Linked DNA regions of Homo sapiens. The protein of the gene in region 5 purifies or fractionates together with the protein of the main gene of each other region. This does not show direct contact. Each region holds a gene or a part of one and is shown on either strand. Other genes may lie near its edges.

Region 1 (3,500 bases), on a different chromosome or scaffold from region 5:
AAACTGACATGTGCTATAATTGTAAAATACACACTGAATTTCGAAGACTTAGTACAAAACAGGGTAAAATATCTCAACAATTTTAGTAGTGATCACATGTTAAATGAAATAAATAAAATACAACTGACCCTTGAACAACATGGGTTTGGACTGTCCGTTTCCACTGATTTTATTTTTTTAGAGACAGGGTCTTGCTCTGCCGCCCAGGCTGGAGTGCAGTGGTGTGATCTCAGCTCACTGCAACCTTGTCCTCCCAGGCTCAAGGAATCCTCCCATCTCAGCCTCCTGAGTAGATGGGACCACAGGTGCACACCATGATGTCTGGCTAATTTAAATTTTTTTTTTTTTGGGTAGAGATGGGGCCTCTGTATGTTGCCCAGGCTGGTGTTGAACTCTTGGGCTCAAGTGATCCTCCTGCCTCATCCTCCCAAAGTGCTGGGATTACAGCCGTGAGCCACTGCACCCGGCCATGAGTGTGTCCACCTATATGTGGGTTTTCTTCTTCCTCTGTCATCCCTGAGACAGTAAGACCAACCCCTCCTCTTTTCTTTCACCACACCTTCCTCAATGTGAAGATAACGAGGATGAATTTTATGATGATCCACTTCCAGTAATGAATAGTAAATCTATTTTCTCTTCCTTATGATTTTTTTTTCATCCAGCTGCTTTATATGCCCATATGCCTTCTACACTTTGAACCCTGGACCAAGTTCAGCTGCTAGGAAACGCAAATTCCAGAGCATACCTAAGATGCATTGGATCAGAAACTCTGGGAATGGGGCTGAGCAATCTAACAGGCCTTCCAGGTGATTCTGATACACCTTAAAGTTGGAGAAACCTGGCTTTAGATCATAAGGGAAAAGAGTAAGACACTCAGGCAAAGCCCAGCTCTGCCCAGCACGGCCTATTTCACACACCCTCACCTCTAGTCCTGCTTGGCTGATGAGGGAAATCTATCCTGTGGATTCCACTTTCATTCATTCCAAACTTTCTTTTATTGATAACATTTCCTCTCTAACTTCATTGTAAGAATACAGTATATAATACATATACCATATGAAATGTGTTAATGACTGTTTATGTTATTGGTAAGGCTTCTAGTCAACAGTAGGCTATTAGGGCTGGGTGCATGGATCACACCTGTAATCCCAGCTACTCAGGAGGATGACTTGAGGCCAAGAGTTCAAGACCAGCCTGATCAACGTAGCAAGACCCCCCATCACTAAAATAATAATGAAAACCCCAAACAACAGGCTATTAGTTAAGTTTAGGGGAGTCAAAAGATCTATCTAAATTTTTGACTGTGTCAGGGCACCTCTAACCCCAATGTTGTTAATGGGTCAGATGTAGCATTAAAATTATTTCATCTGTTTCTTTATATATATATTTTACGATGTGGCTTGCCTCAGTGGCACACCTTATCTTTCTACTGCAGTGCTAAGTTAAACATCATTCTAATGGCTCCGGAAGGACAATCTGCTTGCTGGACTTCATCTTCCCCTCCCAGCCATTCTGTCAAGTCCTTGTGTGGGCCTGCTGTGGTTGGTCCAGCAAACATTCACTCTTTATCAGGCAGAAGCTCCCTGTTTGTTCCTTGGGGAGCCATCCCTTTCCTGGTCTAAGCGCATCTGTGCACACAGGTGATCCAGGCCTGGCTAATCATTGTGGCCCATCCTGCCCTCCCCGCCCCCACCGCGAACAGGTTGAATGGCTTATGACCAAGGCTGGAGGAGCAAAGGCTAACCCCAGGAATGTTTCTGGAACTATCTGGCAAGAAGCAGGTATGTCTTTCCAGTAAGGTTGGTAAGTGAGGAGCCTAAAGCTGCCTGAGAATGGGGCCTTCCCAGGGGAAAGCAGAGTGGAGAGAAGGAGAGAGAGGGGTCTGAGACCACCACTCAAAACTCTGGCTCTGGTCATGCCCTGGGGGCAACTGTTGGTCTTTCCCAGACTTTCCAGTTACATTAGCCAATAAACTCTCCTTTTTGCTTAAAGCATTTTTTTTTTTTGAGACCCGGAGTCTCGCTCTGTCACCCAGGCTGGAGTGCAGTGGTGCAATTTCAACTTATTGCAAGCTCCGCCTCCCGGGTTCATGCCATTCTCCTGCCTCAGCCTCTCGAGTAGCTGGGACTACAGGCGTCCGCCACCACGCCCGGCTAATTTTTTGTAGTTTTAGTAGAGACGGGGTTTCACCATGTTAGCCAGGATCTTCTTGATCTCCTGACCTCGTGATCCGCCTTCCTCGGCCTCCTCAAGTGCTGGGATTACAGGCGTGAGCCACCGTGCCCAGCTGCTTCAAGTGTTTTGAGTCGGGAACCTAGAATTGTGCTGTTGCCAGTGACAGCTTATGGAACTGGCTGAGTCAAGATGGCTATGGTGTGACAGGGAGTTGGCAGGCCTTGTTAGAGAGTGGCAGAGTGTGTTGGTCACTTCTTGTGACCGCCAGGAAGATACTACAGATAGAGAGAAACTTCATCTGAGGCTGGCCCGCCTCAAAGAAAACAGCTTTGCTATGGAGGCCTTCTCTACAGAAAGCAATCTAAGGAGACATAGAGCTGTATTCTCTGCCCAAATTAAAGTCAACAAATGGGCTGGGCACAATGGCTCACGCCTGTAATCCCAGCACTTTGAGAGGCCGAGGTAGGCAGATCACCTGAGGTCAGGAGTTTGAGACCAGCCTGGTGAAACCCTAACTCTACTAAAAATACAAAAAGTAGCCCAGCATGGTAGCATGCACCTGTAGTTCCAGTTACTTGGGAGGCTGGGGCATGAGAATTGCTTGAACCTGGGAGGTGGAGGTTGGTGCCTCCGCAATCCAGCCTGGATGACAGAGAAAGACTCTTGTCTCAAAAAATGAAAATAAAGTGAACAGAAAGAAGGCAAACTTGGAAAAGAGTCTGGGACCCAGAACTCCTAGGGACCTAGGGCCGTGCCTCAGCAGTAAAGAACCACCCACTGGTCAGCAGGCTGGGGGCATACTAGTTTTATCTCTCCCTCCCAGGCTGCTGTTTCAGACTGCCATGAGGCAAAGGCCTATGGAACCATTAAACTGTAGGTTAGGGAAATTTCCATGTCTGCTGCTAAGTGACTGAGACTTAACTTCGAAAGACCGGGACTAGTCTTCATGTGTAACTCTCGTTACTAAGCACCAAACCATAAATTGACCAAATTTGAATGCTAGATGGACAAGCTACTAAAATTGCAAGGCACTTTTATTGCGAAAGAATCACTAAGTCTAGAAAGTGAAGGTCCATGATGTTGAACCTCTAAGGAAATCAATCACTAGGTCCAAAAGCCACGCCAGAAATAAGTGAGGTGTGAAGAAGGGGCAGCCCCAGAATTCCTCCCAGGAGGTGGAACTTGGGGTGGACTTATAGGCTCTACAAACTGCTGTCCCTGTGGAGGACATGACAAGAAGCAGGAGGTGAGCACTTTATGTCATTTCCCCTTTTCAGAAGGGAGGTTCCCGTTGGGTTATCCTGTTATTTTTCCTCCCCTGTTGA
Region 2 (3,500 bases), on a different chromosome or scaffold from region 5:
ACTGGGGAGGTGGAAGTTGCGGTGAGACGAGATTGTGCCACTGCATCCCAGCCTGGGTGACTGAGTGAGAATCTGTCTCAAAAACAATTAAAAAAAAAAAAGTTCTAGTCTCCAGAGCAGCAGCAGCGGCACCAGCAGCAGCAGCATCATAAACTCATAAATCAAAGAAACATGGGTAAGTGTGATTATGTTAAAAACATACACACAGCCAAAATTACCAGAAGCAATGTCAAAAGAAATGACAAAGGCGAACGCAGCCTACAAAGGGCGCATGTGCAGAGGGGCCTACAAACAGGCTCATTCTCGGCAGCACTGCCTCCAACAGCGTAGAGAGGAAAAAAATGCTCTCCAACAGAAAGCTGATTTAATACATTATGTACATCCAAACAATGGAACTCTATGCAGCTTCAAATGAGAATAAACAAGTATTGCCATACGTGGTAGAAAATGACTCAGAGATATTATTAAGAGAATAACGCAACATACCAAAGTATATATATCATATGCTACTACTTGTACAAAAGTGGGGAGGGATTATATACTATGAGCTGTAGCTGCATATAATATCCCCCCACCCCAAATTAAAAGAGAAATAGTGATTGCTTCTGGGATAAGGGGCAGTCTGAGAACTGGGGTAAAAAGTAGCTTCAGGCCAGGCACAGTGGCTCACGCCTGTAATTCCAGCACTTTCAGAGGCCGAGGCAGGTGGATCATCTGAGGTCAGGACATCGAGATCAGTCTGGGCAACATGGTAAAATCCCGTCTCTACTAAAAATACAAAAATTAGGCGGGCGTGGTGGTGGATGCCTGTAATCCCAGCTACTTGAGAGGCTGAGGCAAGAGAACTGCTTGAACCCAGAAGGCGGAGGTTGCAGTGAGTCGAGACTGTGCCACTGCACTCCAGCCTGGGCAACAGAGTGAGACTCTGCCTCAAAAAAAAAAAAAAAAAAAAAAAGGGCCGGGCGCAGGTGGAAGCTCAGGAGGCTGGACAACACGGTGAAACCCCGTCTCTACTAATACACAAAAAAATTAGCTGGGCGTGGTGGTGTGTGCCTGTAATCCTAGTTACTTGGGAGGCTGAGGCAGGAGAACTGCTTGAACCTGGGAGGTGAAGGTTGCAGTGAGCTGAGATTACACCAGTGCACTCCAGCCTGGGTGACAGTGTGAGACTCCATCTCAAAAAAAAAAAGATTTTCTTCTTTGTCTGCAGAGTGGAAGATTTATGAAGACTCAAAAAGCACAATCTAAAAGAACAAAAGTGATATATTTACCTGCTTTAGGGTGAAGGACTCACACTTCTGATTTCAAAGCTTATGGCAAAGCTACTGTAATCAAGACAGTGTAGTACTGGCATAAGGACGGACATACAGACATATAGATCAGTGAAACAGAACTAAAAGACCAAAAACAGACCCTTACATTTGTGGACAATTGATTTTTGACAAGGGTACCAAAACAATTCAATGAGGAAAATACAGTCTTTTCAACAAATAGTGCTGGAACAAATAGATATCCATGTGTAAAAAATGAAATTTGGACACCCACCTTGCATTACATACAGAATTAACTTAAAATGGGTTGAAGACCTAAACATAAGATGTAGAAAAATTATAAGCTGGGCGCGGTGGGTCACACCTGTAATCCCAGCACTTTGGGAGGCTGAGGCGGGAGGATTGCCTGAGCTCAGGAGTGTGAGACCAGCCTGGGCAACATAGTGAGACCTGTCTCTTTAAAAAATAAAAAATTATAGAACTCTTAGAAGGAAACATCAGAGTGAATCTTTGTGATCCTGGGGTAGGCAATGGCTTCTCAGAGATGATACTGAAAGCACAAGTAACAAGAGAAAAACTGGATAAAAGAGACTTCACCAAAATTTAAAACTTTAGTGCATCGAACGACACCAATCTCACCAAGAAAGTGAAAAGAACTCACAGAACAAAAGAAAATACTTGGAAATCATGTATCTGAGGAGAGACTTGCATTTAGAATCTATTAAGAATTCTTACAATTCTGTAATAAAAATGACAGAACCCAATTTTAAAAATGGGCAAGTGATCTGAACAGACATTTGTTTAGCTGAAGACAAAGGCCAACAGGCACAAGAAAAGATGATCAACATCCTTAGTCATTATGGAAATGCAAATAAAAACTACAATGAGACACCACTTCATACTCAGTAGGATGACTAAATTCAAAGAATAACAGGCCAGGCATGGTGGCTCACGCCTGTAATCGCAGCACTTTGGGAGGCTGAGATAGGTGGATCACCTGAGGTCAGGAGTTCAAGACCAGCCTGACCAACATGGCGAAACCCCATCTCCACTAAAAATACAAAAACTAGCCAGGCGTGGTGGTGCATGCTTGTAATCCCATCTACTCAGGAAGCTGAGGCGGGAGAATTGCTTGAGCCTGGGAGGCCGAGGTTGCAGTGTGCCAAGATCGAGATCGCACCACTGTACTCCAGGCTGGGTGACAAAGTGACAATCCATCTCAAAAAAAAAAAAAAAAAAAAAGACAGAATAATAAGTCTGTCCATGTGGATATACAACTGGAACCCTCCCACACTGCTGCTGGGAGTACAAACGGTACAGCTTCAGTGCAAAAGAGTTTGGCAGCTCCTCCAAATGTTAAATGCAGAGTTACCACAACTCAGCAATTCTACTCCTAGGGGTGTGTGTGTGTGTATGTATGTGTGTATGTATGTATGTATGTATGTATGTATGTATGTATGTATGTATTTTTGAGACAGAGTTTCACTCTTGTTGCCCAGGCTGGAGTGCAATGGCGTGATCTCAGCTCACTGTAACCTCCACCTCCCAGGTTCAAGCAATTCTCCCGCCTCAGCCTCCCAAGTAGCTGGGATTACAGGCATGCGCCATCATGCCTGGCTAATTTTGTATTTTTAGTAGAGACGGGATTTCTCCATGTTGGTCAGGCTGGTCTTGAACTCCCAACCTCAAGTGATCCATCCACCTCAGCCTCCCAAAGTGCTAGGATCACAGGCGTGAGCCACCACGCCCAGTCTCTACTCCTAGGTATATCTAAGAGAAATGAAACCATACATCCACATAAAAACTTTTCACAATATTCACAGTATCGTGACAGCCAAAAAGTGGAAACAACCCATCAGGTGTCCATCAGCTGATGAATGATAATATCATTACAATGGAATACTATTCAGCAATAAGAAGGAATGAAGGCCTCGCGCAGGCTTCAACCTGGGTGAACCCTCAAAACATTACACTAAGTGAAGATGCCAGACACAAAGGACCATTTATGTATTATAGAATTTCATTTCTAAAAAATCTCCAGAATAAGTTCAAAACCAGCCTGGACAACATAATAAGACGCTGTCTCTCCAAAAAATAAAAATAGAAAAAAAAAGAAATTAAAAAAAAATTAGCCAGGTGTGGCGGCACATGCCTGTAGTTCCAGCTACTCAAAAGGCTGAGGCTGAAAATTCGTTCAAGCCTAGGAGGTCAAGGCTGCAGTGAGGTATT
Region 3 (3,500 bases), on a different chromosome or scaffold from region 5:
GTATGGAAACCAATGTTAATTTTGTAACTCTCAACTTTATTGAATATAGTGTTTATCAGCTGTAATGGGTTTTTTGTGGAGTCTAAAACACAGACAATCTCACCCCTTCCCTTCCTATTTAGATGCCTTTCCTTTCTTTGCCTTGTATAATTACTCTGGCAAGTCAGTTACATATAACGTTCTCAGCATTTGTAATTTGACATCAAATCCATCTGTTGTAATACACTGATTGTTACTTTTCAACTCGAAAACATGGACATTTATCACTACTCTCCCTTTCTCTTGGTCTAGTTGTTATTTAAAAAAAAACCTATCAATGCAAACCAGGATATTTTTCTACAAAACAATTTCAAACACACTAAAAGGTTTTAATCTAACAATTTTTAAACTTTCTTTGTCAATGACTTTGAACTGTGGTCTCTCGGAACAAATCCAACACCTTTAGTAGAAAAATTATGTTAATTCCTACATTATCATTGGGTCTAGCCAAGAGTTGACCAAAGGTGATATTAACAGATATGCTTATTTATTACCTTGTTCTCAAAGTTCTAGCGTAAGTCTTGAAAAATCTAGTAAAAATTTGTAAAGACTATAATTGCACAAACTCCCTCTCTCATGAGTCACACAGTTAATCCAGAATACTATTTCTAAGTTATTGTAAAGCCAACAAGTAAATATGATGTAGTGTATAAAAATAATCCTAATTGCATTGTATATTCTGTAAGTGACATATGCAATTGATACTATTTACTAAATATCTCATAATTATATTTATTTACATAGAAAAAAGGAATCAAAAACATATCTATTATCTAACGTTTAAATGATTAAAAATACTTGAGATAGCATTGCTACATAAATGCTATGTAAATGCTGAAGAAAGTAAAAATGTCATTCCCTACATTTGCTAAATATATTGTGACACATTATAAGCATTTTTAAAATATATCACTAATGGTTGGGTCAAGTCAGCAAAAATGATTCTAAGTATTTAATTGTGGAAAAATTTAGTACAGGGGATAGTATTCATGTGATGGAAGGATTTTAAATGGAACCCAGAGATTAGCAGCAGCAGTAAGTTTTAATTGCATACCAGGTGCAGAGTCTAGGATACAAGACAGAACTGCAGATAAAATCTGACTCCTTCCAGCATAGCTAGGAGACATGGCTAACTCCACCTGTCCGGAGACCTTACCTAGAAATCTAACGGCTCCAAACCAGGTAAACAAAACTATTTTCCAAAGTCAAAGCATCAATTTATGACATTAAAGCACTTCTAAAACTTAACCTCTGACTTAAATTAGACCAAATGGATAAATTTTGAAGATATTTTTATTTTACCACTGACTTTAACACCATCTTTATTTCCCAAAGATTACTGAAGTCACATGAAATAAAAGGCATTAGAGCTTCTATTTTTCTTACAAAATATTTAAGAGCTTTCATTTTCTTTTAAGCCGAGCCATTATATATACATCACATACACAACACTTCTAGACAAGAAAAGATCTAGCAGTTGTTCAGTTTTTCTTTCCCACTTTATGAACCATAACACAACTTCCACAGACTATCTACGACATGATTAAATTTATCTGACCTGTCCTGTATTTCCCTCTTTTGTAATTAGTCATTCTACTTTAGGACAACAATTTGCCATATAAGATCCTCTCTCATATAACATTTCTTTCCTTCATAACATTTCTTATAATAAATACATCTTCATATCCACAATTTTCTTTAGATCTCTCTCCCCTACTAATTTCTGATGCCCATCCAAACCAAAAAGGTCAGACAACGCAAGGCAAAACAGAGGAGAGCCTTAGATTTTTGAGAGGGACCTGTCTGCTTAAAGTTCTTGGGGTTCCATGAGGAAAACAGAGGTTTCTCCTAAAATGGGGTTTGTGGAACCTTCTGTTTTTCCTTAAGGAGTCCCAGGTTGTCAGAAATTACCTTAGATCCTCTCATGTGGGCATCAAGAGTGGCAACAAGAGAGACTGGGGTAATAATTCAGACAACTGAGCAGAAAAAGAAAAACTTACTACTGTCCCCACTGTAATGATGGATAAACTGAGGCACCATGCAGTTCAAAAATTCATGTTCACATAATTAGGATCCACAGCTCACTCTCTTAAATAATTTTGCCAACTCTATGCCCAGTCACTGATGCACCTGTATGGTAGCTCATGGCCCCCTTGGAACTTAGAACCTGGGTTTCATTCCTGCTCTACGGCTATATAATTCAACAATTTTCCTTTGAATTTGTTGGACTCTAACCCTGTATATCTCAAATTTTATTAGTATTACTGAATCTTAAAGGGAGCTGTGACGTCTTTAGTCTTTAGAAATATTAAACCTATAAACAAGGACTATATGAGGTTAAACAGTATTCAAATTTCTATATGCTTTAAAACATGGACACAATGTATTGAGAAACACACCTACAAAACTGCACCCCATCAACTCTGGACAAAAATTTAGATATTATCTCTTCAATATAACCTATCTAGTGGTATTTATACATATTCTTCCATGTATCAATGGTATATTACATGCTCATAACCTTAAAAATAACAAGTGTTCAAATTATAGGCCTTACACATTTCTACGGGCTTGAAAAATGATACAATATAGATTGTCTTTAAAGCAGTCAAGAAAATGCATAAACTTCTAGAGGAATCAGTAAAATAAAGATAAAAAGTTCACACCTAAAGTAGTAATACTAGGAATAAAAGAGGGCTCGACACTGCAGGTTCTTAGATACAAAAGTTAATAAAGCCTTGTTTTTGGTTGTGAATCTTTGCCTTAAAATACACACAGCCGACCGAGGTGGGTGGATCACCTGAGGTCAGGTGTTCTAGGCCAGCCTGGCCAACATGGTGAAACCCCATCTCTACTAAAAATACAAAAATTAGCCGGGCGTGGTGGCAGGCACCTATAATCCCAGCTACTCAGGGGGCCAAGGCAGGAGAACTGCTTTCACCCAGGAGGCAGGGGTTGCAGTGAGCCAAGATCGGGCCATCGTACTACAGCCTGGGGGACAAGAGCGAGACTTCATCTCAAAAAAAAAAAAATTACACACAATTCTCCCGACTTCCTTTTTCTCTTGCAAAGAGGTGGTGATGAACCAGGTTTGCTCAGGCAGATGGCAATACTCTTGAAAATGGTGGCAGAGAGCCAGGCGTGGTGGCTCACACCTCCAATCCCAGCACTTTGGGAAGCTGAGACAGGTGGATCACTTGAAGTCGGGAGTTCAAGACCAGCCTGACCAACATAGAGAAAACCCATCTCTATTAAAAACACAAAGTTAGCTGGGCATGGTGGCACATGCCTGCAATCCCAGTTACTCGGGAGGCTGAGGCAGGAGACTTGCTTGAACCCAGGAAGCGGAGGTTGCAGTGAGCCGAGATCGCCCCATTGCACTCCAGCCTGGGCAACAAGAGCAAAACTCCATCTCAAAAAAAAAAAGAAAGAAAACAAAGGAAATGGTGGCAGAGAAAATG
Region 4 (3,500 bases), on a different chromosome or scaffold from region 5:
TCGAGAAGGAGAGGACAACTCGAAGAGGAACCCCATTGCCAAAGTAAGTGATGAAGCAATCTGATGACAAATGCTTTTGCAGAGCAGGGAAGCTTTCAAATATCTCCAAGATTTGCAGGCTTCACTGCTCCACAGTTATTTAAGAAGACAGAATGTGGTCATTTGCTCCAGTTGCTGAGCCACTGATTTGAATATCATGTGCAGGGAGGCTGACGTGGGGCAGGCAGTCAATGGCAAGTGATTCTAGAAGAAAGGGCTGGATCTCCAGCACAACTGGGCTTTGTTCATCCATTTGTGTACTGCTCATTATTGCCTGTCAATGTCATAGGAAACGTATTCACATAGTGACAGTCTGAAGCCTGGCCCTCCAGAAAGTCAAGCCAAGTTTACTGCACTAGATGAATTAACTCCAGGAAAGTAAGGATAGTATCAAAAGTTCCCACCAGATCTCTACATCCAGAAAATAAGAGAGTCTTATAAGACTTTCACAAATAATGCCTACTGAAAAGGAAGGAGAGTTAAAGAATGTGTAATAAATTGATCCAGGAAGGATGGGATCCACATTAATAGCTTCATTCACTCTTTCTGGACATCTTGATCCTGAACAGTAAAGTGATCTGCAGAATTCCCTCCTTCCAGCTTTATATTAAAAACATAGTAAGCATCAGCAGTGGTGTTACAGATACAACCTCAGCTCAAGAAAACAGATGTATTCTCTCTCAGATGTTTTCAAATTGGAGGGACGCTTTTAAATTATTATTTCCATTCAACTCAGTAATTGCTTTATGTTATTCCACTTATATTGCATATTCTTTTCTTTTTCTCTGCATTTTGGGAGGTTCTTGAGTTTTCTTCTATGTAAAAAGGGCCTTTGGATTAGAGTTAAGCTAACCAAAGTTCTATTTCCAGCAGTCTTTATTTGACTGTGAATGTGTGGGTAAAAAATCTTACTATTTTACTGAATGCTCTTATCGTTAGTATATAGGTGAGATTTCAAAATTGTTTCAGTTTAAATTTATCAGCAATAGGTAATAAAGCTACTAAAGCAAAATCTGTGTGGCAGAATATTTGCCATAAAATCTATTTGGCAGAAAAGTGATGCAGTATGTTTACATTTATAAAATTATTACAAATATCTCTAACCATTATAGTTTTCTGATATTCTCAACTTATCTACCATTTTGACTAAATCTCAGACTCCAGCTTAGGTAGGATACTTATTAATATGACACAAGTTATTTTTAAAAAATAGTAAATGTTGTAATTTCTTTTGTGAAGCTATTTCTGCGTATGCTAAAAAATCAGAGAATTGAACAATGTGTTATTAACAACAAACCTAGCACCAAGTGTGTATGTTATACACATTACCTCATGTAATTCCCACAACAAATCTGTGTGATATTATCCCCACTGTAAGCTGATCTGGGCAAAGTTAAGTAAATTTTCCAGGGTCACACAGGACTAAGTCATGGTGTCAGGTTTCAATCCAAAGCCCATTTGGTAAAGAAACCCACTCCCTTCTTATTCCACTACACTCTTAAGCATTATCTGCTCTAAACTGGATCACAATCCTAGCTATTTTTCTTATAGATTCGATCAGACTGCGAATCGAACCAGAAGATAACATACCGGATTTCTGGAGTAGGGATTGATCGACCACCATATGGGGTATTCACCATTAATCCTCGCACTGGGGAAATTAACATCACTTCAGTGGTAGACAGAGAAATAACTCCACTTTTCTTGGTAAGTCATAGCCATATGTTTTGATTTGTTCATATTAGTTTTCTTCCCTTTTTCAAAAAATATTATCTTAAGATAATGGATTACTTTTGATAAAACATGGCAGACTGAACCCAAATAGAAGACTTGAAGGAATGGAAAGAGTGTGAAAATAAAAGTTTATAGTTCAGGATTCTCTGGTATGTTGCATGTACATGTAGTCAAGTGTCCTGATCATATTTAAATTATTTGACTGTACTACAGTCTGAATTCACTGGAAAAAATTGTTTCTTTGCCTATTTTCTGATATATTTTCAAGCATGTTACTAAAATTCCTTTGGTGGAAAAAGATGGCTTTTTTCCAATTTTCCACAGATCTATTGCCGGGCTCTGAATTCACGGGGTGAAGATTTAGAAAGGCCTCTTGAGCTTAGAGTCAAAGTTATGGACATAAATGATAACGCTCCAGTCTTTTCGCAAAGTGTATACACAGCCAGCATTGAAGAAAATAGTGATGCCAGTAAGTAGAATGACATTCCTTCTCTACGTCACAGCATATCTACTTCTCTTGGTCAAAAGCTTTAGAGGACTGACATACAGGAAATGTAAAGGACAGAAAAAGCCACACTTGTATTTTGAATAAACCCCACATATTTTAATTTATAACTGAGCTAGAAAAAGAAATCATGTCTAAAATGATAAAATAAAATATCTTCTTACTTGCGGAAGGTCCCTACAGGGATTTAGCAGGTGCTTAGCACCTTGCTTAAAGATTGCTACTGGGCTCATGAAGAACTAAATCCAAGCGAGCAAACTGAGGAATAAACCAGGAATGTTTAAGAAGGCTCTGTTCTGGTCTCTTACTCAAAATGTTTGGCTGACCCACACCAGGTAGAGCGTGATGGTGGAAGCACACGCAATTGTACCCATCAGATCAATCACTAAGGGTAATCATTGATCTTCACAGACTACATAGCAAACTACATTCTATTCTCTCATTTTCTTTCATTTCTTTCCATTCCACTTAATTCCATTTCCAGTTCTAATACCCTCTGTCTTTCCTTTATATTAATTCTCCTGAACTTCTTTCCTTCCTACTCTTATGCTTTTCTTATATGGCTACTTTCCTATCTCTCCTCTCCCTTTGCCTTCTGACCTTGATTTTACATACAGCACATGAATATCAGTTTGTTCCCCAAACCCCTGTTGTCCCTTTCCCTTTCAAATCTATGTCTGCCCATATACCTCTAAACAAATTTGGGGGGAAATAATAGGAAAAATAAATTTCAGGAAAAAAGGCAGATAAACACAAAATTTTTTTTTGAACTAGGATAGTCCTCCCATAGAGAGGCAAAGAGATTTTGCCTAGGAGAGCCAACACAAAGAGAGACTCCGAAGTCCATCTTTGCTTCCTCATCAACACACCTCAAAACAACACTGGTGAAGGAAGAGAAGGTGAAACCCACAACCAAGTCTCCCTGCCTAGGAAGCAAAAGAACATCAGGGACCTGACAATTCTGAAAAGTCTGTCCTGTAGATTGACATCCTTGGGGATTTGCCTAAGATACCTGTTCTTTCTACCTATGAGTAATTAGGAACTTCTTATATTGCTATGGACAAGTCTTCTTTTCAATAATTATAAATTTGTGACTGTTTGGTAAAATGCTATCTTCCAATGCAACCAAGAGTAATTATCTGCTTTCTGGAAAAGTGGCAATTAAGAATATAGGTGTTCAATACATAATTATAATGTTGCATTTAATTAAACTATAATTTTC
Region 5 (3,500 bases):
GTGTAGTGGTGCATGCCTGTAATTCCAGCTACTTGGGAGGCTGAGGCAGGAGAATCGCTTGAACACGGGAGGTGGGAGTTGCAGTGAGCTGAGATCATGCCACTGCACTCCAGCCTCTATCTATTTTTTTGGAGACTCTATCTCCAAAAAGAAAAAGAAAGAAAGGTTCTCAGTGGCATTGCTGGAGAGCAGGCTGGCAGGGCTATGCAAGGGGTAGGGAGGGACAGAGAGGAAAGTTGGGGCAGCCTGGGGCTGGGGAAAGGGGTAATCTAGAAAGTGGGGTCTCAGTTCTGCAGATGAACAGATTTGACACTGACTCGAGAGGCTGATGAAATAAGAGTTGTTGGACCCGATGTGGGTGGGAAGGTGGAAATGATGTTCCCAGGTGTTGGCCTGGCTCAGTGGGTGGCTGCCTGGTGCTGGTCACCTAGGAAGGGGGACCAGCAGCATTGTAAAGATGCAGGTGTGTCTACAACAATGGCACACAGTAGGTGCCTGAAAGGGTATCAGTTAAATCAGAACACATCCCCCAGTCTATTTTACTGATGAGAAAATAAAGGCTCAGATAAATTGAGTGACTGAGGCCCTACAGGCCTAAGATTGCATAGCTAGTGGTACCTTGTCCAGTTCGGAGAACTCGATCCTCTCCTCCAGGGTGCAGCTCCGGCCGATGGGCGAGATGTTCAGCATGCCATTCCGGAACTCGATGAAGGTTCCACTGGTGGTGAGGGAGGGCGGGGAGCCAGAGAGAACCAGAACGGCCCTGAATTCAAATCTAGCCCCACCTGGGACCCCAGCCTCCTAGGACTTCAAAGGGGACAAGAATCCACACTCCCCGCAAAAAATCAGGGGCCCAAGTATCTCCAGGTTCCCTCTGAGGGACCCACACTTCTCCTCCCTCAGGCCCCAGGTTCTGGAGACCAGGCTGGTGGGACCTCACCGCTTCTTGGGCAGCCTGAGCAGGGCCATGTAGCTGAGGCAGAAGTTGATCAAGTCCTGCAGCAGCTCCTCCCCCAGGTGGTTCTGGATGGTCTGGCCAAGGAACACAGGGCTCTGAGCGTGGCCTGGGCTGCCTGACCCTGAGACAGGCACAGTGTCTCTCCCCCAGCCCAGGACAGAAGCCCCCTTGGACTGCTCCACTATGGAAAAGTGGGGTGCCCCTGGCTAAGCCCTGGGGGACACTGACCTGCTTGGAGAGCAGTCGTCCGTGCTTATACTGCACCGTCCCGTTCTCGGCAAACACATAATCAAACTTCTCAATGACTTCAGGGTCACATAGAGGACAGGAGGAAGAAAGAGTGTGAGACCACGTCTGTGACCCCACGGGCAAGTAAAGAGAGAGGAAGCCTACACCCTTGGTTTCACATTCAAAGGCCATTTGTTCAATCTGAGGCTACAACCTGCTTCTCCAGCCTTTCTCCCTCTGCAGCTTGGTTTTCTTCCAAAGAAGCCAGTCACACCTGTGGGCCTCTGCACACAGGCATCCATGCAGGTCCTTCTGTCAGAACCGCCCTTCCCTGGCTTCCCTGCCACTCATCCTCCAAGATTCAGCTTCCTCCTCTGGAAGCCATGCAGTACTCTCTGGCAGAGGGCATCATTTCCACTCTGTGCTCCCCTGCCCCTCTGCAGAGGGGCTCCCTTCTGTTCTATAGCTGCCATCGCACTGGGTTCTCAAGGCTGGCTGCATGGGAGAGTTGGAGGTTTCAGCTCTGACTGCCAGGCGAAGCAGTTGGAGTGGGTGGGAGGTGGGAGGCACAGGGAGCACAGCCCAGAGGCTGTTGCGGGGTCTGGGTGGCACGTGGTTACCTGGACTATGATGGCGTGGTGGAGATGGAGACAGAGGGGACAGGGAGATATTTTGGGGTTTGCTGATGGAATAAACAAGAGGTGGGGAAAAGGAAAAATTCGAGGAAGTTTCTGGCTTGAGGAACTGGAGGCACCCACTTTGACTGGGCTGAGACCAGGGGCTCTGAGGTCCAGTCGATTTCCTGGATAACTTCAGAGTCATCCTCTGTTAAATGGGATGATCACGCCTACTCTAAAGTGTGATTGTGGGGATCAAATGCAATGACATTAACACATGATCATTTTTGACAAATGGTAGCCATCATTGGTTCTGCCCTTTTATTTATTTATTTATTTATTTATTTATTTATTTATTTATTTTTGGATGTGTAGCCTCACTCTGTCACCCAGGCTGGAGTGCAGTGGCCTGATCTTGGCTCACTGCAACCTCCGCCTCCCAGGTTCAAGCGATTCTCCTGCCTCAGCCTCCCGAGTAGCTGGGATTACAGGCACGTGCCAACACACCCAGCTAATTTTTTGTATTTTTAGTAGAGACGGGGTTTCACCATGTTGGCCAGGCTGGTCTTGAACTCCTCATCTCAAGTGATCCATCCGCCTCGGCCTCCCAAAGTGCTGGGATTACAGGCGTAAGCCACTGTGCCGGCTGGTTCAGCCCATTTTAAAGATGAGGAAATCAAGACTCAGCAGGGAGAAATGAGAATGTAAACTGCATAAGGGCAGGTTCTGCTTGCTTTGCCCCAGCCATTTCTCAAGGGCCTGGCACAATCCCTGGCAATAGGAAGTGCTCAAGTGTTTGTCAAATCAGTAAGGGAACTATCTGGCTGCTCTCTCTCTATTTCTTCTGCCCCACAGAAGCAGGACTGGATCTTTGAAGACGCCCAGGAATCTCTCAAACTCCCCACTCCCTCTACCCCCAGCCTCACTCCTACCTTCATCCCCGTCACCCAGCTGCTCAGCGATCTTACAGTAGTCAGAGCCGCCCACCACACCGATCTGCACTCTACTTCGTAGCTTCTGCAGGAAGGCGGCCACCTCAGGGTCAATTTTCTATGGGGGGAGAGGGGAAGCATAGCATTCTGGCTTTCAACATGTCTGGGACCTCCACTTAGCCCTCACTTAGTGCTGAGAACCCAGGAAGCCCACATTCTACCTGGATCTGAAGCAGTACAAAGCTTAGACACCAAAAATTAGACAGGTTGGACACTGTGGCTCAGGTCTGCAATCCCAACACTTTGCGAGGCCAAGGCAGAAAGATCACTTGACCCAGGAGTTTGAGACTAGAGCCTAGGCAGCAAAGGAAGACATTGTCTCTATGAAAAAAAAAATTTTTTTGGAGACGAATTTTTGTTCTGTCATCCAGGCTGGAGTGCAGTGGTGTGATTCTGGCTCACTGAAACCTCTGCCCAGGCTGGAGTGCGATGGCGTGATCTCAGCTCACTGCAACCTCTGCCTCCCGGGTTCAAGCGATTCTTCTGCCTCAGCCTCCCGAGTAGCTGGGATTACAGGCGCCTGCCACCATGCCCAGCTAAGTTTTAAATTTTTAGTAGAGACAGGGTTTCGCCATGTTGGCCAGGCTGGTCTTGAACTCCTGACTTCAGGTGATCCATCCGCCTGGGCCTCCCAAAGTGCTGGGATTATAGGCGTGAGCCACCGTGCCTGGCCGAAAGTTTTTAAAAATTAGCCAGGCATGGGCT
Region 6 (3,500 bases), on a different chromosome or scaffold from region 5:
AAATTAGTTGGGCATGGTGGTGCATATCTGTAATCCTAGCTACTCGGGAGGCTGAGAAAGGAGAATCGTTTGAACCTGGGAGGTGAAGGTTGCAGTGAGCCGAGATCGTGCCACTGCACTCCAGCCTAGGCGAAAGAGCAAGACTCCATCTCAGAGGGAAAAAAAAAAAATCACATGGGAAGCTTTTAAAAATACTGACAATGTGCCTCTACCTTACAATGGCTGGAGATAAGGCCCAAGTGTGAGGTTTCTTTCTTTTTTTTTTTTTTTGGTTTTTTTTTTTGTGAACAGAGTCTCACTCTGTTACCCAGGCTGGAGTACAGTGGTGCGATCTCGGCTCACTGCAAGCTCCGCCTCCTGGATTCATGCCATTCTCCTGCCTCAGCCTCCTGAGTAGCTGGGACTACAGGCGCCCGCCACCACACCCGGCTGATTTTTTTGTATTTTAGTAGAGATGGGGTTTCACCGTGTTAGCCAGGATGGTCTCAGTCTCTTGACCTCGTGATCCACCCACCTCGGCCTCCCAAAGTGCTGGGACTACAGGTGTGAGCCACTGCACCCGGCCAGGGTGGGTTTTTTTTTTTTTTTTTTTTTAAAGCAATCCAGATGATTTCAAGGTGAGACCCAGTTTAAGAATCAGTGCTCTCGGCCGATGGCCCAAGCCTGTAGTCCCAGCACTTTGGGAGGCTGAGGAGGGCGGATCACCTGAAGATGGGAGTCAAGACCAGCCTGACCAACATGGAGAAACCCCATCTCTACTAAAAATACAAAATTAGCCGGGCGTGGTGGCACATGCCTGTAATCCTAGCTACTTGGGAGGCTGAGGCAGGAGAATAGCTTGAACCCGGGAGACAGAGGTTGAGGTGAGCCGAGATCCTGCCATTGCACTCCAGCATCCAAGAACAAGAGCGAAACTCTTTCCCCGCCAAAAAAAAAAAAAAGAAAGAAAGAAATGTTGTCTCAGTTCCTACCCTTTTCAATCAGAATATGCATTTTGATAAAATCCCCAAGTGATTTGTTTGCACATTAAAGACTGTGGGAGCAGTGCTTTGAGCCAGTAGTTCTCAGTGGTGACCAAACATTAGAATTACTTTTTTACTTGAGGAGTTTTTTTGTTTTGTTTTGTTTTTTCTTTTTTCTTTTTTCGAGACAGAGTCTCGCTCTATCACCAGGCTGGAGTGCAGTGGTGCAATCTTACTCAAGGAGTTTTTAAACAATTGATACCTTGGCTCCCCCTCAGAGAGATTCTGGGGTAAGTCTGGCTATTAGTGTTTTTAAATAAAAGATTTGACCGGGCACAGTGGTTCACGCCTGTAATCCCAGCACTTTGGGAGACTGAGGCGGGCAGATTACCTGAGGTTGGGAGTTCAAGACCAGCCTGACCAACATGGCGAAACTCCGTCTCGACTAAAATTATAAAATTAGCTGGCCGTGTTGGTGCATGCCTGTAAACCCAGGTACTCGGGAGGCTGAGACAGGAGACTCACTTGAACCCGGGAGGCGGAGGGTGCAGTGAGCTGAGATTGCGCCATTGCACTCCAGCCTGAGCAACAAGAGGAAAACTCCGTCTCAAAAAAAAAAAAAAAAAAAAACATTTAAAAGTGCAGCCAAGGCTGAGAAGCACTGCACTAGCCCAGTTGCAGTGCTGCTTTTGCTGTCCCTGGGGCAAGAGGTAGAACTCCAAAGCTTCTTAAAAGTAGGACAGCAATGAGTAGAGAAATATTTTCTTAAATAAATGAACTATACATAACATTTTTCTGGCAATTTTGCAGAAGGATCTAATATAAAACAATATTGACACATTTTCATGGTTTCTCTCCTATAGGCTCAAACTGTCCAGGTTGCTGAAGTTGAACCACAGTCACAGCCACAGCCTTCCCCAGAACTTCTGCTTCCAAATTCTTTGAAGCCAGAAGAAGGGCTTGAAGTATGGAAAAACTGGGCCCAGACCAAGAATGCTGAACTAGAGAAGGATGCTCAGAACAGATTGGCACCCATTGGGAGTGAGTGTCTTGGAAGAAGAGTGGGCTGTGTCTAAAATGCAATGGTACTAAAGTAACAGGAGGACAAAATGCCAGAAAAGTGGTGTCTCCTGTCTTGGGGACAAGAGAGCAACATCTGTAATAGTATGTTGAATTCAAGCCTAGTAACAAGCAGTACTGACCTTGTGTACATAATAAGCAGGATATGTGGGGTTTGCCCAAAACCAGGCATTTTTAGACATACGGGTTTCAGGAGTTGACCCTACCAGACCTAAGCAGAGTGGCTTCTGGGAGGAAATGGGAACCAGGGATAGGCACTCAAGCCCTTCTTTCTTGGCATTAGGCTCATATACTCATGTTATAGGCCAGTTCTGACATTACAGGCATGAAACATTCTAGTAGATACAAGTGAGCATTTCTATCCCAGCACCCTGATGGGCAGTATCTGTTCTGAGCCTTCCAGATATGGACCCCCAGGACCTTCATTCATTTTTGAGGCTTCCGTTGCAGGGCGCCAACTGCTGCGATTCCAGGAAGATCTCATCTCCTCTGCTGTGGCAGAGTTGAATTATGGGCTCTGTCTAATGACACGGGAAGCTCGAAATGGAGAAGGTGAACCCTATGACCCAGATGTGCTCTACTATATTTTCCTGTGTATTCAAAAGGTAGGAAACAGATCTTCACAAGAACATGTTTGAGCTGTGTTCCTATTGGATGTTTGCTAGTTTAGTTAATAAATTGATAAGCAAGAAGTTAAAATAAGGAAGTTCTCTTTCAGGTATACAGTGAGTTTTAAAATACACATTTGTTGTTTTTTTTTTTTTTTTAAGTTTTAAAAACCTACACGTTCACTTTAGAAAATAACAGCCGGGGCCGGGCGCTGGTGGCTCACGCCTGTAATCCCAGCGCTTTGGGAGGCCGAGGCAGGTGGATCACTTGAGGTCAGGAGTTGAAGACGACCAGCCCAGCCAACATGGTGAAACCCCATCCACTAAAAATAGAAAAATTTGCCAGGTGTGGTGGTGCACTGCCTATAATCCCTGCTATTTGGGAGGCTGAGGCATGAGAATCGCTTGAACCCGGGAGGTAGAGGTTGCAATGAGCTGAGATCACAGCATTTTACTCCAGTCTGGGTGACAGAGCGAGACTCTGTCTCAAAAATTAAAAAAAAAAGAAAAGAAAAGAAAAAAAATAAGAGCCAGGCAAGATGTCTCACACCTGTAATCCCAGCACTTTGGGAGGCTCAAGGCAGGAGGATCGCTTGAGCCCCAGGAGTTTGAGACCAGCCTAGGCAACATAGTGAAACCCCATCTCTACAAAAAATTAGCTGGGTATGGTAATGCATGCCTGTAGTCCCAGCTACTTGGGAGGCTGAGGTGGGAGGATTGCTTGAGCCCCAGAGGTTGGGGCTGTAGTGAGTCATGATTATGTCACTACACTCCAGCCTGGGTGACAGAGTGAGACCCTGTCTGAAAAACGAAAAGAAAAAAAATTAGCTGGGTGTGGTGGCACACACCT

The links.
Region 1: the proteins of PMM1 (region 5) and E2F3 purify together in Homo sapiens (pull-down; one large-scale study listed by IntAct). This does not show direct contact.
Region 2: the proteins of PMM1 (region 5) and VPS33A purify together in Homo sapiens (affinity purification with mass spectrometry; one large-scale study listed by BioGRID and IntAct). This does not show direct contact.
Region 3: the proteins of PMM1 (region 5) and POTEE purify together in Homo sapiens (affinity purification with mass spectrometry; 3 studies listed by BioGRID and IntAct, with this or other methods). This does not show direct contact.
Region 4: the proteins of PMM1 (region 5) and DSG4 purify together in Homo sapiens (affinity purification with mass spectrometry; 3 studies listed by BioGRID and IntAct, with this or other methods). This does not show direct contact.
Region 6: the proteins of PMM1 (region 5) and QRICH1 purify together in Homo sapiens (affinity purification with mass spectrometry; 3 studies listed by BioGRID and IntAct, with this or other methods). This does not show direct contact.

Annotation. Positions count from the first base shown.
Region 1 is NC_000006.12:20,474,879-20,478,378, reverse strand, and holds part of E2F3 (transcription factor E2F3), read right to left. Parts: intron 1-3,500.
Region 2 is NC_000012.12:122,256,495-122,259,994, forward strand, and holds part of VPS33A (vacuolar protein sorting-associated protein 33A), read right to left. Parts: intron 1-3,500.
Region 3 is NC_000002.12:131,212,536-131,216,035, reverse strand, and holds part of POTEE (POTE ankyrin domain family member E), read right to left. Parts: intron 1-3,500.
Region 4 is NC_000018.10:31,386,777-31,390,276, forward strand, and holds part of DSG4 (desmoglein-4 isoform 2 preproprotein), read left to right. Parts: coding exon 1-43; intron 44-1,590; coding exon 1,591-1,746; intron 1,747-2,097; coding exon 2,098-2,242; intron 2,243-3,500.
Region 5 is NC_000022.11:41,583,341-41,586,840, forward strand, and holds part of PMM1 (phosphomannomutase 1), read right to left. Parts: intron 2,854-3,500; coding exon 2,736-2,853; intron 1,264-2,735; coding exon 1,187-1,263; intron 1,033-1,186; coding exon 941-1,032; intron 719-940; coding exon 619-718; intron 1-618. UniProt on the Homo sapiens protein: Involved in the synthesis of the GDP-mannose and dolichol-phosphate-mannose required for a number of critical mannosyl transfer reactions. In addition, may be responsible for the degradation of glucose-1,6-bisphosphate in ischemic brain.
Region 6 is NC_000003.12:49,045,572-49,049,071, reverse strand, and holds part of QRICH1 (transcriptional regulator QRICH1), read left to right. Parts: intron 1-1,825; coding exon 1,826-2,003; intron 2,004-2,492; coding exon 2,493-2,647; intron 2,648-3,500. UniProt on the Homo sapiens protein: Transcriptional regulator that acts as a mediator of the integrated stress response (ISR) through transcriptional control of protein homeostasis under conditions of ER stress.